2 linked regions of the Homo sapiens genome follow. The protein of the gene in region 2 purifies or fractionates together with the protein of the main gene of each other region. This does not show direct contact. Each region holds a gene or a part of one and is shown on either strand. Other genes may lie near its edges.

Region 1 (7,769 bases), on a different chromosome or scaffold from region 2:
AGCTTAAATTCAGAGCAACCCCGTTAGTTCCTTTATCATTGTTCTCAACTGGAGTTGTTGTTTTGTGATTGGAAATATGTGGGGTTGTGCAACTAGCCACCAGGGAAGATGAATGCCCTGCAATTAGCCAAACAGTCCCGCAACATGGAGAATTGCTCCCCCTAAAATGTTTTCTCTCTGATATAAAGTTATAAGCGAAAGTCAAGAGCTTTTCAATTGCTGCATTACTAGTTGAATAAGACATCTGCATGCCTGGATAGTGCAAATTACCTATCTTTTTTTTTTTAAATCTCTGTGCCACTTATGAACATTGCAAAAGATATTGCTTACTTTCTGTATTGGGTCACACGACCTCTGCATAGTATTCCTCTTCAAAGGTACTGCAAATATCAGTTTTGATAGAAAAATATCAAAAGTAGCTCTCTGACCTAAGTGCTTCCCATTTATTCTACTTGCCTTATACCCCTTTCCTGGCCTGCCAGATGCTTTTAAGAACCTATTTTTGAGAACTGCCAAGTATTATTTTACCCATTTTACAGAAGAAAGTGAGACTTACAGAGATTAAGTCAATTGCTCCCTCAAGGTCACAGAGACAGCAGGTTCCAGAGGTGAGCTTCAAACCCAAGCATTCTGACTCCAAACTTCAGGTGCTTAACTGCTATGTCTGAGTTGTTATTTATATTATGTTTTTCAGTCATATTTGACTCCTTTTACATCATTGTGGAATGCATCCAAATGATTTTGGGATTACTTCTTCATCTTAAATGTCTGAAGCTGTACTCAATTCTCAGCCTAGATACTCGCTATATTAATATGAGTATGTCGCTTATCTTCTTTGTATCTATCACTAAAAGAAAGCAATTGTGCTAGAAATTTGCTCTCCAGTGTCTCTTGATATTAACTTTAATAATTCCATCAACAATATCTAGACCTTTTTATTCTCAAGACATATAATTTTCAATTATGCCATATCAAAACATAATTGATATGATTGCATAATATCTTTTTGTTACTATTTTAAAAAATTGTTTCCACCAGGAAGTGAAGGTAGGTGTCATAAGTGCTATCTGGCTTGGTGCAGTGGCTCATGCCTGTAATCCTAGCACTTTGGGAGGCCAAGGCAGGTAGATCGCTTGAGCTCAGGAGTTCAAGACCAGCCTGGGCAAGATGGTAAAACTTCATCTCTACAAAAAAAACCCACAAAAAATTAGCCTGGCATGGTGGCGCATGCCTGTAGTCTCAGCTACTTGTGGGGCTGAGGTGGGAGGATCACTTGAACCTGGGAGGCAGAGGTTTCAATGAGAGCCAAGATGGCACCACTGCACTCCAGCCTGGGGAAGACTGAGACCTTGTCTCAAAAAAAAAAAAAAAAAAGTGCTATCTGACAGGCTTTGGCCCATTGTAGTAATCTACAAGTCTACCAAATTTAGATCTTATATTGTAATATCTTCTTTCCCCTGATCCCCAAATTCCCTTCATAATTCTCATTATTTCATTGACAAAAGCCCAAGGATGAACAAATTGTTTTCTTTTGAGGTAAAACAAAACAGATCTAATAATTGCGTATGTTTATGCTTGATAATAATAATAATATATTTTATGAACATCCCTCCCAAGTCCCGATTGCACTGTTTTGATATTCAGTCACGGTATCTTTATTCATAGCCTGCCTTTAATGAGAATAGTAGAGGTCTTTGTGCATAAACACAAGAAGTACAGTGCTATTTTCATAGTGTTTAAGAAGTACTTATTATAAAATAATGTACTCTGTGTTTTATAAAAGGATCAAACAGTAAAGAAATATAAAAAATGAGAAGTTTCCCATTTCCTCTAAAATATCTGCTTTTGCTGAATCTCCTTCCCAAGAAGAATTAATAATTCTTCTGTAAGTGTTATGATATTTTGTTGTATGCAACATAATTTATATGAAAAATTAGCACACACCTCAAACTATATACCATTTATTGGATTTAAAGTGGCTATCATTTAATCATTTAAAAAGCTTTTTTTCTAAATACAGTTGTCTTTCTAAAATGTTTAAATTAGGGTTTTTGGTAGTATTATTATTGTTGAAAAGGTAATATGTGCCCATGATATAAAACTTGAACACAAAAGAGAATAAAATGTAAAGAAAATCACCTTTCCACTGCAGATCCATAGTCTCTATGACCAGAAGGATTTTTATACATATGAAATCATAAATATCTGTCTGAAAATAATGCAACATAGTATATATTCTTTTGAAAAAGTGGAAGCATGATGTATACGTTACTTTGCTTTGCTGTCTTAGATATTAGAGATCAATAGGCCAGGTGTGGTGGCTCATGCCTGTAATACCAGCACTTTGGGAGGCCAAGGCTGGTGGATCACTTGAGGCAAGGAGTTCGAGGCCAGCCTGGCCAACATGGTGAAACCCATCTCTACTAAAAATACAAAAATTAGCCAGACATGGTGGCTGCATCTGTAGTCCCAGCTACTTGGGAGGCTGAGGCAGAAGAATCTCTTGAAACCTGGAGGCAGAGGTTGCAGTGATTCGAAATGGCACCACTGCACTCCAGCCTGGGTAACAGAGCGAGACTCTGACATACCAGCACATCTCAATCTCTTCCTGCTTCTTGGCCATACTGTAGCCATCACAGAGTAGTATCATAACCAGTTAACCAGTCTTTTAAGAATGAATAATTAAGCCATTTTTCACTCTTTTGCTATTAAAAATAGTAACGTAGGTTTAAAAAGCATCCTTGCTCATCTCTGTACACATATTAAGAATATATCTAAAGGATAAATTCCTGCAAGTAAAATTTTCTACAAAAGAAATTGCTGAGTCATAGAAAGGGGATATTTTAAATCCTTGATACATATTAAGCTGCATCCAATAAAGTTTTCTCAGTTTAAGAGAGTAAAAAAGGCCTGATTTATAGCATTTGTATTGGGTGCTATCTTTTTTTTTTTTTTTTTTGAGATGGAGTCTCACTCTGTGGCCCAGGCTGTAGTGCAGTGACATGATCTCGGCTCACTGCAACCTCCGCCTCCTGGGTTCAAGCGATTCTCCTGTCTCAGGCTCCCAAGGAGCTGGGATTACAGGTGTGCACCACTACGCCCAGCTAAGTTTTGTGTTTTTTGTAGAGATGGGGTTTCACCCTGCTGGCCAGGCTGGTCTCGAACTCTTGACTTCAGGTGATTCGCCCACCTCGGCCTCCCAAAGTGCTGGGATTAATAGGCGTTAGCCAATGCACCCAGCCTAGTGCTGTCTTCTGAATGATTCTTTATTACAGTACACTAAATAAAATGTCTGTATTTATGCAACTCAGGGTTTGTCAGCAAATATTAGGAGGTAAAACTAATTGGAACTGTTTTAGACCCTTTTGGCCCCTAAATGCCATATCATATTACACAAAAATACCCACCTATAGTTATACATAAATATTGAGGTGAGTTGCAGTTGATGTTATATTTTTAAAAGAAAAATATTAATTAAATATGTATTAATATACATTAGTGTTTTGAAGTCTATCCATTTTTTCCCCCAGCCATACAAAGTTTGGTAGGATTCTAAAAGCTTGTAGGCCCTCAAGCACCACTCCTCTAGTGCTTAATGGGTTAAATGTCCCTAAAGCTAATTTGAAAAGCAAATTGCCTCATTCTTTCTCTTCATATCTTTCTTTCAAACTGTAAATTTTAAGAGCTGTTTATTCCTTATTCTCCTTGTTCTTAATTTGTTTAATAAAGTTTTAGATCTTTAGCGAATATTTTGCAACAACAGAAATATCCCCAAATTTCCTGGTGCTAGAAAACAGCCACAATAGTAAGTAGGTCAAGTCTGTATTGCTTAGGGAACAGGGAGATTTTTGTTTTAAAGCAGTGATTCTTCTGAGAGTAGGGCTCTGGGCGCAGGTGAGTGGTAAACAATCCTTTTTCCTGCAGGGATGTTGCTGTTGTGTAAAAGCAAAAGCATTTTGTGTAAGGATGTTAGGCTCCAGTAAGTATTTCAAAGCCACATTATCTTTCTCATTAGGGGGAGTTTCTCTCTGTACTTTAAAAGAAGATAATGATGCTTGAAAAAGCTCAAGATTGACTAACTTTTAGGAAGCTGCCAGAGTTGTGCATAGACGTCCTCACTACAGTAGCTTCGTTATGTCTTACGAACAATTTAACCTTCACTTCTAGTCATCGTTTCGTCATCGTAAGCACTGGGTCATTACAGAGTTCAGTGTACCTAAAACGCAAGCTGTGACTGATGAGAATCCAAGCTGCAAACTGGGCGGCTTGGGCAACTGTTTTCTTAACCACCCTCCACGTTGTGGCTTACGTCTTTTAGCACCGCCCTCAGGGCAAAGGATGGTGGTCAGAGGTAACTACCACAGTAAAAGAAGGCTATTTATGTGGTCTGTTTACAGTTACCCGGTTTCAACACTAAGCCAGCTTTCCGCCACGTCTCGGGCGAACCTCCGGCCTGAGGTCACAGAGACGCCCGGGTGGCTCTCAGGAGCCAGCATGGCAGCCTCCTCAGGACGGGTACTCAGGAATTTCGCCCGCAGGGACTAACACCACTTGGACCCAGGGACTCCAGCTTCACTCCGCTTTGTGCACTGGGTGGGGCGGTCGCGGTGACGTTTCAGGCAACGCCTCTGCTGTCAGCCAATAAGGAGCGGGAGACGCGTCGGGCCTGCGCTCAATGGGCCGCGCTGGTCCCGCCCCACTGTGATCGTGAGACTGCAGACCCGCTAATAAAATCCACCCCAACAATCGCTGTGTGCCGCTTTAGTGCGCTCGCCGTCGGCTCTACCTGCGTGCTTTAGCTCCTTCTCGCCTGATCCTTCTGTCTCTCCCAACCCCGGACACCCGGCTTCGACTGGTTATATCTTCGGTGTTCTTTTCCTCTCTTCTTCTTTCGCGGTTCAGCATGCAGGAAAAAGACGCCTCCTCACAAGGTTTCCTGCCACACTTCCAACATTTCGCCACGCAGGCGATCCATGTGGGCCAGGATCCAGAGCAATGGACCTCCAGGGCTGTAGTGCCCCCCATCTCACTGTCCACCACGTTCAAGCAAGGGGCGCCTGGCCAGCACTCGGTGAGCTGGGTCTGTCTGGGGCTGTCCACAGTTGGGCGGTAAAAGAGATACGGCTTATGAATTTGAAAGGCATGTAAGTAATTTATAATATGACTTATAAATTAGGAAGGCAACCGAAAGATGTTTCTACACTGTAATTCTTGCAGCACAGCTTTGTATCGGATGGTCCAGTGATCGTATTTCTTTTGATAAGCAGGACTGGAAGGAGCCGTTTGTCCAGCTTGCCATTTAGATTTGGCCTGAAATTCAGGTGATTTTGACAAATTTGCAATTAAAAATCGAAGGTCATAACTTTTTTGAGTTACCTTTAGCAGCATAAATTTTAAAGATGTAGTACGGAGTCAGCTTAAAAAATATTAAGGGTCTGATAACTTGACTAGAATTAAGATTGTTTCCAGTAGCTGTATGAATAGTTATTGAGTACCTACTATATGCCAAATACGTGCTCGTATATATCATGTGTATTACATGTATTGTCTCATCTAATCCTAACAACAACCCTAGTCTGAACCGAATTCTCATTTTTTCCCAATAAAGAAGCTGAGATTTAGGGAGTTAAGTAACTAGCCTTAGACTAGTAAGTATTGGAGATGGAATTCAAACTTTAGAAACTTGAGGTTGCTTTAGGAACCAACTCCTAGGCACTCAGCTACACTATGCTATCTCTAATAATGCTAGTAACAATTTAGCCTATTGCGTCATTTAAGCACTGTGGCTTAGTGATTAAGAACACAACTCATGACCGGGTGCAGTGGCTTACGCCTGTAATCCCAGCACTTTGGGAGGCTGAGGCGGGTGGATCACCTGAGGACAGGAGTTCGAGCCCAGCCTGGCCAACATGGTGAAACCCCATCTCTACTAAAAATAAATAAATTAGCTGGGCATGGTGGCGGGTAATCTCAGCTACTCGGGAAGCTGAGGCAGGAGAATCGCTTGAACCCAGGAGGCAGAGGTTGCAGTGAGCCAAGATCTCACCATTGTGCTCCAGCCTGGGTGACAAGAGTGAAACTCCAACTCAAACAACAACAGAAAAAGAGAACACAAATCTTATAGTCAAAGGCTAGGTTTGCATTCTGACACCACTTCTTCTGAGCTGGGGGACCTTGGGCAAGTTAGTTAACCTATCAAAACCTCTGACTGATCCTGTATAAATGGGGATAATAATAGTATCTACCACATAAGTTGTTGAGATGTATTTAAGGCTGTATAGTACATAATAATTACTCGATGGTAATTTGTTTTTTCATGATGTTCACATTTACACTATTTCCATTTGATCCTCACAACAACCAGGTCAGAAGGCAGGACAGGTATTATGTACTTTTTATAGAAAAGGAACTGACACAGAGTCATACATGAATGATCTGTAAAGCCTACGAAGGAGCCCTCTTTGTTAATCACATAGCTTTTTTCCCCCTTTTGGTGGCATACTTGATGGATCTTAGAGAATTTAAAAGTTGCTGAGATTTGTAAGAATTAGTTAAAGTCTGTAAGTCCAAAGCCTTGATTATGCTTTGGAAACCACTTCAGTGTGTTATATAAGTTGAGGAAAATCCTTACAGACAGTCCCTTGTTTTGTGAGATACAGTTCTAAGGCCATTTCTACAACTGGTTTAGAATACTCTTTACTGTATTTTAGAATCAAAATATGTACACAGCCTCTCTTTCTTTCTTTCTTTTTTTTTTTTTTTTATTTTTCAGAGAGAGTCTTACTCTGTCACCCAGGCTGGAGTGCAGTGGTGCGATCTCGGCTCACTGCAACCTCCGCCTCCCGGGTTCAAGCGATTCTCCGGCCTCAGCCTCCTAAGTAGCTGGGATTACAGGCGCCTGCCACTGCGCCTGACTCATTTTTTATTTTTTTTAGTAGAGACGGGGTTTCACCATGTTGGCCAGGCTGCTCTTGAACTCCTGACCTCGTGATTCACCCGCCTTGGCCTCCCAAAGTGCTGGGATTACAGGTGTGAGCCACGGCGCCCGGCTCACAGCCTCTCTTTCAAACATGCAGTTCGTTTCTTGTGTAGGGTTTAATGAAAGTGTAGCTGCCCAAGCTTTGGAACTTAGTGCAAAAGTTTACCATTCAGGTGTGATATTAATAATTAAATGTTTCCAGGAAGCCAGCAGGGATGGTTAAATCCACAAAAACTCTGCTTAATATCTTTTTTTTTTTTTTTTTTTTGAGACAGAGTCTTGCTCTCTTGCCCAGGCTGGAGTGCAGTGGTGCGATCTTGGCCCACTGCATCCTCCACCTCCTGGGTTCAAGTAATTCTCCTACCTCAGCTTCCCGAGTAGCTGAGATTACAGCTGCCCGCCACCATGCCCAGCTAATTTATTTATTTTTAGTAGAGACGGGGTTTCACCATGTTGGCCAGGCTGGTCTTGAAATCCTGACCTCAGGTGATTCACCTCTGAAAGTGCTGGGATTACAGGCATGAGCCACCGCGCCCGGCCCTTTTTAAAAATCAGCTAAGACCACTAAAGGGAATTTGAAGAGCTGAATGAGAAACGGGAGGTACCTTTCTGTGGCAGAAGCCACGTGAATCCAAACTTTTTTTTTTTTAATCTGCAGGGTACAGCTGCAGGTCATGGTAAGAAGGTGATGGTGGGGAGGGGTAAGGATATCCTGGAGCCCTATAAAATATGTCTGCTCAGGTTGGGCGCGGTGGCTCACGCCTGTAATCCCAGCACTTTCGGAGGCTGA
Region 2 (7,021 bases):
TGATGGCCTCGGCTTCTTCCTTGTCAAGGATGCCTTTCTCCACATAAGCATCAGCTTGTTTATTGATGAAGTCTCTCATCTTTGAAAGGTCATAATCTGGAAAATATTATTAGAGCATAATGAGCAAAGATCAGGAAAGGCCAATCCCATTACAGTGATTACCATTAACTGAGAAGCATTTTATACAATAACACAATTACCATTCCCCATCTTTCACATCGGGAGGCATTTTAATTCTTGGCATTTGTGTAGTACTTTGCAGTATAAAATAATATTTACATGTATTATCTCATCTGTGCTTCATCACAACCCTGTGAGATGTTCAGGTGGGTCATACCATCCCCATTTGACCAAACAGGAAATAGGCTCATGACCAGGGCTTTGCAAATTTTAATGTTTATACCAAACACCTGGGGCTATTGGGAAGTGGCAGATTCATATTCAGTAGGTCTGGGGTGAGGATCCAGGTTATGCATTTTAAACGGCTGTCAGGTGATACTGATGCTGTTGGTCTAGGAACCACACTTCGGGGTTAAGTGCCTTGTTCAAGGTCACATAGGTAGTAAAAGTTATGATCAGAACCGGGTGTTCTGACTTCCTGACTTCCTGACTTATACTAGGTTTAAGTCCATGTTGATGTGACAACCCACTTTTTTTTTTCAAATTAAGAGTTACTTTATTTCATGCTGTTTGAATTGTATGCAAGGAGCAAAAAGCCAAACTGTAAACTCTTTTTGGTTCCTCTGTCCTCCTTAAACAAACAAACAAACAAAATCTATATACATTGTCAAAACACCCACCAAAAATAAAGATTTCCAGGTAAGGAGGCTGCCTATGACACCTTTCTGAAGCCTTTTAAAAACCCCCATTTTCCCTTGATCCTTTAAGTATTAGGCAATAACAGCTGTAAATGACTAGACAGAACGCTGCTTTCTGTTAGTTGGTGAGGAGAAGAGAAAGGAGAGAGTGGGTATAAAAGGGTGGTTTAGCAGCCACCCTTAGCGAGCCTGAATGTAATCTGAGCCTGGGTCACTTGGGTATCCTTAAGCTCTTATGAGAAAGGAAAACGAACCATGAAGGACCTCTCTACAATCACTAAGTGAGTGAGGCTTAGACAGGGCTTATATCCTCTCTGGCAAGCAGGACATCTGCTCCCTGTTAGGGCACAGCCATGAGGATTGAAAGGGAAATCCCAGCACTGGACACTTTACAGCCATCACCTTAATTGCCCCCCACAAAACCCCACGAGGTTATACCCTATGACATCTGTCTGTCTGTCTGTCTGTCTGTCTGTCTGTCTGTCTATCTATCTATCTATCCATCCATCCATCATCTAACTATCTATATAGGTTTTCGTCCATGATTCCTGGCTTATAACTCCCATATCCCTTGTTTCAGCCTTTTGTCATAATGTTAGGGCACTTTGGGCCTCAGAAGAAGGCCTCAGGAAGCAGAATCTTTCTCTCTGACCTGCCCTCCTTTCACCCAGCCAAGGCAGGACTCTAATCTGATTGTGGGTCATAACACCCTTGATCCATAGAGGGTCCTACCCTGTACCCTGGAGGAAGGAATGTTGCACAGAGAGGCCAAGAAGAATCTGCAGAGATAGGCCTTACTGGGTTTAGACCATGTCCTTTTTGTCCAATCACATTCCTACATGGTTGTCAATCATGCCTATCCAATGAAGTCTCCATGAAAGGCCCAAGAGGACAGGGTTCAGGAGCTTCCAGATAGGTGAACACGTGGAGGCTGACAGGAAGGTGAACAAAAACTGATTCACATGCTGGAAGGGTGTTGCACCCCAGCTCCACAAGGATGGAAGCTCCTGCACTTCAGACTGTTCCAGACTTCACCCTATGTATCTCTTCATCTAGTTGTTTATTTGTATCCTTTAAAATATCCTTTTAATAAACCAGTAAATGCATTTCTCTGAATTCTAGCAATCCTTTTTTTTTCTTTTTTTCTTTTTTTTTGACAGGGTCTCACTGTTTTACCCAGGCTGGATGCAGTCGTATGATCATGGCTCACTGTAGCCTTGGACTTCTGGGCTCAAGTGATCCTCCTGCTTCAGCCTCCTGAGTAACTTGGGACTACAAGCGCACACCACCACACCTGGCTAATTTTTTTTTTTTTTTTGAGACGGAGTCTTGCACCGTTGCCCAGGCTGGAGTGCAGTGGCGTGATCTCAGCTCACTGCAAGCTCCACCTCCCGGGTTCACGCCATTCTTCTGCCTCAGCCTCCTGAGCAGCTGGGACTACAGGCACGTGCCACCACGCCCAGCTAATTTTTGTATTTTTAGTAGAGATGGAGGTTCACCATATTGGCCAGGATGGTCTCGAACTCCTGACCTCATGATCCACCCACCTCGGCCTCCCAAAGTGCTGGGATTACAGGTGTGAACCACTGTGCCTGGCCCACCTGGCTAATTTTTAAATTTTTTGTGGAGATGGGGTCTCGCTATGTTGACCAGGCTGGTCTCAAACTCCTGGCCTCAAGTGATCCTCCCACCTTGGCCTCCCAAAGTGCTGGGATTACAGGTGTGAGCTACCATACCAGGCCCACTCTAGCAAATTAACTGAACCCTAAGAGGAGGCTGTGGAAACCGAAACTTGAAGCCAGTCAGCCAGCTGTTCCAGAGGCCTGGACATGCAACTGGTGCAAAGGAAGGGGCACTCTTTTGGGACTGCGCCCTCACCCTGTGGTGTCTGAGGCTGACTCTAAGTAGATAGTGTTGGAATTGAATTGAATCAGCGGACAACCAGCTAGTGTCGGCTGCAGAATTGATTGCTTGCTTGGTGGTGGGGAGAAACCCCCACGCATTTGGTCACAGAAGTCTTCTGTGTTGATTGTTGTGTTGAGTGAGAGAACAGGAGAAAGCACATTGTTGCTTTTTCCACACTCATGGGTAAGCATTAGTATCCTCATTTCAGAGATGAAGAAACAGAAAAGGGGGTAAGTTACTTGCTCAGGTAGTGGTAGAGTCAGGTTCTGAATGCTGGTCATTGATTGACCATTCCATAGCCTTGTAGTACTGACTATAAAACATCTAACAGGTACAAAGCAAATGTTCAATAAATGCTCATTTTTATTTTTGTTTTTCACTTTTCCCATTCTCTCAGGCACGAAGTAGAGAACGAAGCTGAACATACATTTTGCAGGCACCGCACCTAAGGCGATGATTCCTTTATTCCTGACCCCTAAGGCACAAAGGGCACTTCTTGTTTATTCCTGGTTCATTAATACTGCCTCTGCAGAATAGGCTGCAGTGTCAACATCTTTAATGGAATAAAAGGCAGACTCCCGCTAAGTGATTTTAATGTGCATCAAAGTTTGAAAACCACTGCCTTGCTGGGCGCGGTGGCTCACACCTGTAATCCCAACACTTTGGGAGGCCGAGGCAGGCGGATCAGGAGGTCACGAGATTGAGGCCATCCAGGCTAACACGGTGAAACCCCATGTCAACTAAAAATAAGAAAAATTAGCCAGGCATGGTGGCGGGTGCCTGTAGTCCCAACTACTTGGGAGGCCGAAGCAGGAGAATGGCGTGAACCCTGGAGGCGGAGCTCGCAGTGAGCGGAGACCGTGCCACTGCACTCCAGCCTGGGCGACAGAGCGAGACTCTGTCTCAAAAAAAAAAAAAAGTGCAGACTCCCAAAGACAGATGTGAAGAGGTCCAGTGATTTGAATGGACAAACAGGCAAATATTTTGCTTTCTTTTGAAAAGGAAAAATTGTTATCTTTATGACACGGCTATTACTGTGTGCAGTGGGAAAACCAGCATGGTGCAAAGGAAAGGCCCTTTGGTCTAATGCCAACTCTGCCCTAGCTGGGGGTTAGGAGACATAAGCCAGTAGCCATCTTGCTAACCTTAAAAGAAGTTTTAAGGTTGTAAGGCTCAAAGGAGAGAAGGGCTGTGATTCGCTTTTTAAAAGCATATTTTTTTAAGGCTACATAAGATTTTCTCATTATCCTCACTATCACATCACATGGACCTCCCTTTCCTGGGTTTGGGAAGGGGATTCAGGTCACCCAGTCCCTTACCAAACAAAGGGTGGCAACAATGGTTAAGAAAGGTCAGAACTAATAGTAATTCTCCCTGCTTATACAGCTGCAGCCACTGCATGACCCTAGGACCCAGATCCCCCACAGGCTTTGAGAAGATGACCCCAAGTCAAGCCGAGCGCATATGAGAGCAGTGGAGAAAGAGCTCTGTTTCTGTCTTCAAGAGGGCATACTGCATATTTCCCAGAGACAAAAGGGAGCATCGAACCCAATGCCAGTTTGCTAACAGAGCCTTCCATATGCAAGCACCAGAGTTCTATGCTTCACCAGGTTGGTCATTTCTGGAATGGGAACATTGAATTGCAAGATGTTGTTGATTATGACCAGGAGTCTGATTCATATGCTAATCAGTGAAAACAGTAACAAATACTCCAAATTGATGTACCATACAATTTATCATGGCTTTGGGATGTATTTTGGCACACAGTGTACTACAGTGATTCTAAGATGAACATTTTAATTTTAAAGTCTTTGCAGTCATTGATGGCATGTTGTAATTTAATGGCACATAAAACAATGGTGCATTTTTAATCAATGACAGATTCGATGAAATATGGTTCATGTAGATTTTAATGTAACTGACAGCCTGGAAATTCAAATCATTTTGAACCAAATAAAGTATGCATGAACATCGATAATTATTGCCATCATCACTCAACTTAGAAGACCTAAGCTACCAGGGTGCTGAAAATACCTCTTTCTCCCTCTGTGCTGTATCTCAGCGGTTTGCAAACTTGGCTGCACGCTGGAATAACCTGGGGAGTTGAAAAAATACTGATGCCAGAGCTGTGTCCCCAGAATTTCTGATTTAGTGGTGCTGCAGTGCAGCCTGGGCAGTGGGATATTTAAGAAGTTCCCCAGGTGATTTGGATGCACTTTAAAGTTTGAGAAGCATTACTTGTTTCTTAGGAAGGCATCACTTTGCAACTGCTCTGGCCAGATACCTGGGAATCGTGTCAGAATCCTCCTTCTCCACATGGCTCTTGAGTTCCTCCCTTCCTTTTTATCTCCTCTGTTGTCCCCTGGTTTACAGCCCCATATTTCTGCTCCAGATCTCTCTGTCTTACCTCCTTATCTCTCTGCTGCCTTCTGGGGTCTTATTTTTTCAATCTGTAGTCACACTGCTGCCAGATGGATTTCTCAGCTCTTAACCTAATTAGGCCCCAATTTAGGCTCCCTTGGCTAAAACCAACCTTCTCTGAAGAGTACATAAATGTCTTCCTGGCATGGCTACTGCCCACTTCCCAACCCTATATGCTGCTCTTCTCCACAAACATCCACTGTTCCTGGGGACATGAATGGCTCCAGTTCCCAGAACCACCCCTCTGTTTTGTCCCTTTATGTCTTGGTACCTAGTGTTCGCTCTGCCTCCATCTCTCCTCACTCGGCAGATTCATCCTTAACTTTCCAGAGAAGACTTGTGGCCCTTCTCTCAACTGTCTCTGTCCTAGTATGAAGATCCATCCCATCTTCTCACCTCCTTGGCAGTAACACACCTATCCATGACATCACTGAGCAGGGCCAACCATAGCTCTAATGACGCTGTGCATTCCTTGGGCGGGACATCTCTGGCACTTAGAACAGGGCCTGGTTCTGTGTTTTGCTTTATGTAAGCGAGTGACTGCTTTTGTGACTGCAGGGTGCACAAAATTTGTGCTCAGAAAATGCCTTTGTTTAAAATACTCCAAGAAAGGGGGGCTAGATAAAACAAGACTGGCAACATTTGATAATTATTGAAGATGGGTGCTGGAGACACAGGGATCCATTATGCTATTCGTTCTACGTTTGCTTGACATTTTTCCTAATAAAACGTAAAAGAAAAGAAAACGCCTTTGCTTGAAAGGCTAATTTGAATAATAAGAGAAATGGAGGTTCTGTTCCCCTCTGTATCTGACAGGTGACTTCAGTCTTTTTTGGGCTCTGCGGGGAGACTTTAGCACAGTCAATTTGACTGTGGGAATTTTTATATAACAAGAGCCCCTGACAAATGGGTGAAGTTTGCAATGTACAACCACACTTGGTCCTACCTTCTTTATTTCCCTTTTTGTCATGTTTCTTCAACCATTCAATATTTTTTCTGATGGCTTCCAAATAGGCTTCTGTTTTTCCTGGAAGAGGTAAGAGAACTATATCAAACACTCAGGAAATATCACTACATCTCATTTTAAAGACCACACGTATGTTCAGAACCACAAATATTAGACTTATGCAGCATTTGCAAGGTTGTTTCCCTAACTAGGTAATGTACATATTTGTATGTGTCTATGTGTGTTTGTGTGTTGAGGGGTTTAGGTCAAGGAGAGCAGGTGCGGATGAGGTTCCAGGAGGAAGAATCAAGTTGGTAAGTGTCAAGGGGCATGATTCCCACACACAAATAAATCCACCTTGATGTCCTGGCAGAGAAGAGTTTTGATTCAGTTTACTAGATAGATGGGTCCTTAGATTAGTTCATTTCTGGTTAGGGATGGTTCTTCCAAACTGAGGAGCATCATCAAGCCAAGGACTTGAATGAGAGTGGCAGATACTTAAAGATTCCATCACTTCAGTTAAAAGTCCAAATGTGTGGCTTTGTGTAAGCAGCTCTAAGTCTTCTGCCCAATTCTGGCAGGGGGCGGGCAAAAACTTAGACAAAGAGGCGACCAGTGCCTCACTTCAAGGTTTGGATGGCAAACCTTAGAACTGGCTCTAATAAAACTCCCCAGGATGTAAACACTGTTCGATGGGCCTCAAGTGTGGCATGAGAATACCAGGCATCACTCATGCACCTACTCTGTGATGCCCTTTACCTGTACTGATGTCTGCAAGCGGATATTACCATCCACTGAGAGATGAGGAATCTGGGGCTCAGAGAGGCGAAGTGAGTAGGCTAAGGCTACACAGGAAATAACAGCTGGCATTTGGACTCTGATCTGCTTAGCTTCCGCTACCTGCATTCCCTGCAGGATAAGACCTCACCTT

Evidence for each region. Proteins that work in one complex are often made in the same cells at the same time.
Region 1: the proteins of SCG3 (region 2) and CTH purify together in Homo sapiens (affinity purification with mass spectrometry; 2 studies listed by BioGRID and IntAct, with this or other methods). This does not show direct contact.

What each region holds. Positions count from the first base shown.
Region 1 is NC_000001.11:70,406,513-70,414,281, forward strand, and holds the start of CTH (cystathionine gamma-lyase), read left to right. Parts: upstream 1-4,755; 5' UTR 4,756-4,903; coding exon 4,904-5,071; intron 5,072-7,769. UniProt on the Homo sapiens protein: Catalyzes the last step in the trans-sulfuration pathway from L-methionine to L-cysteine in a pyridoxal-5'-phosphate (PLP)-dependent manner, which consists on cleaving the L,L-cystathionine molecule into L-cysteine, ammonia and 2-oxobutanoate.
Region 2 is NC_000015.10:51,712,483-51,719,503, reverse strand, and holds part of SCG3 (secretogranin-3 isoform 1 precursor), read right to left. Parts: intron 6,172-7,021; coding exon 6,091-6,171; intron 97-6,090; coding exon 1-96. UniProt on the Homo sapiens protein: Member of the granin protein family that regulates the biogenesis of secretory granules. Acts as a sorting receptor for intragranular proteins including chromogranin A/CHGA. May also play a role in angiogenesis.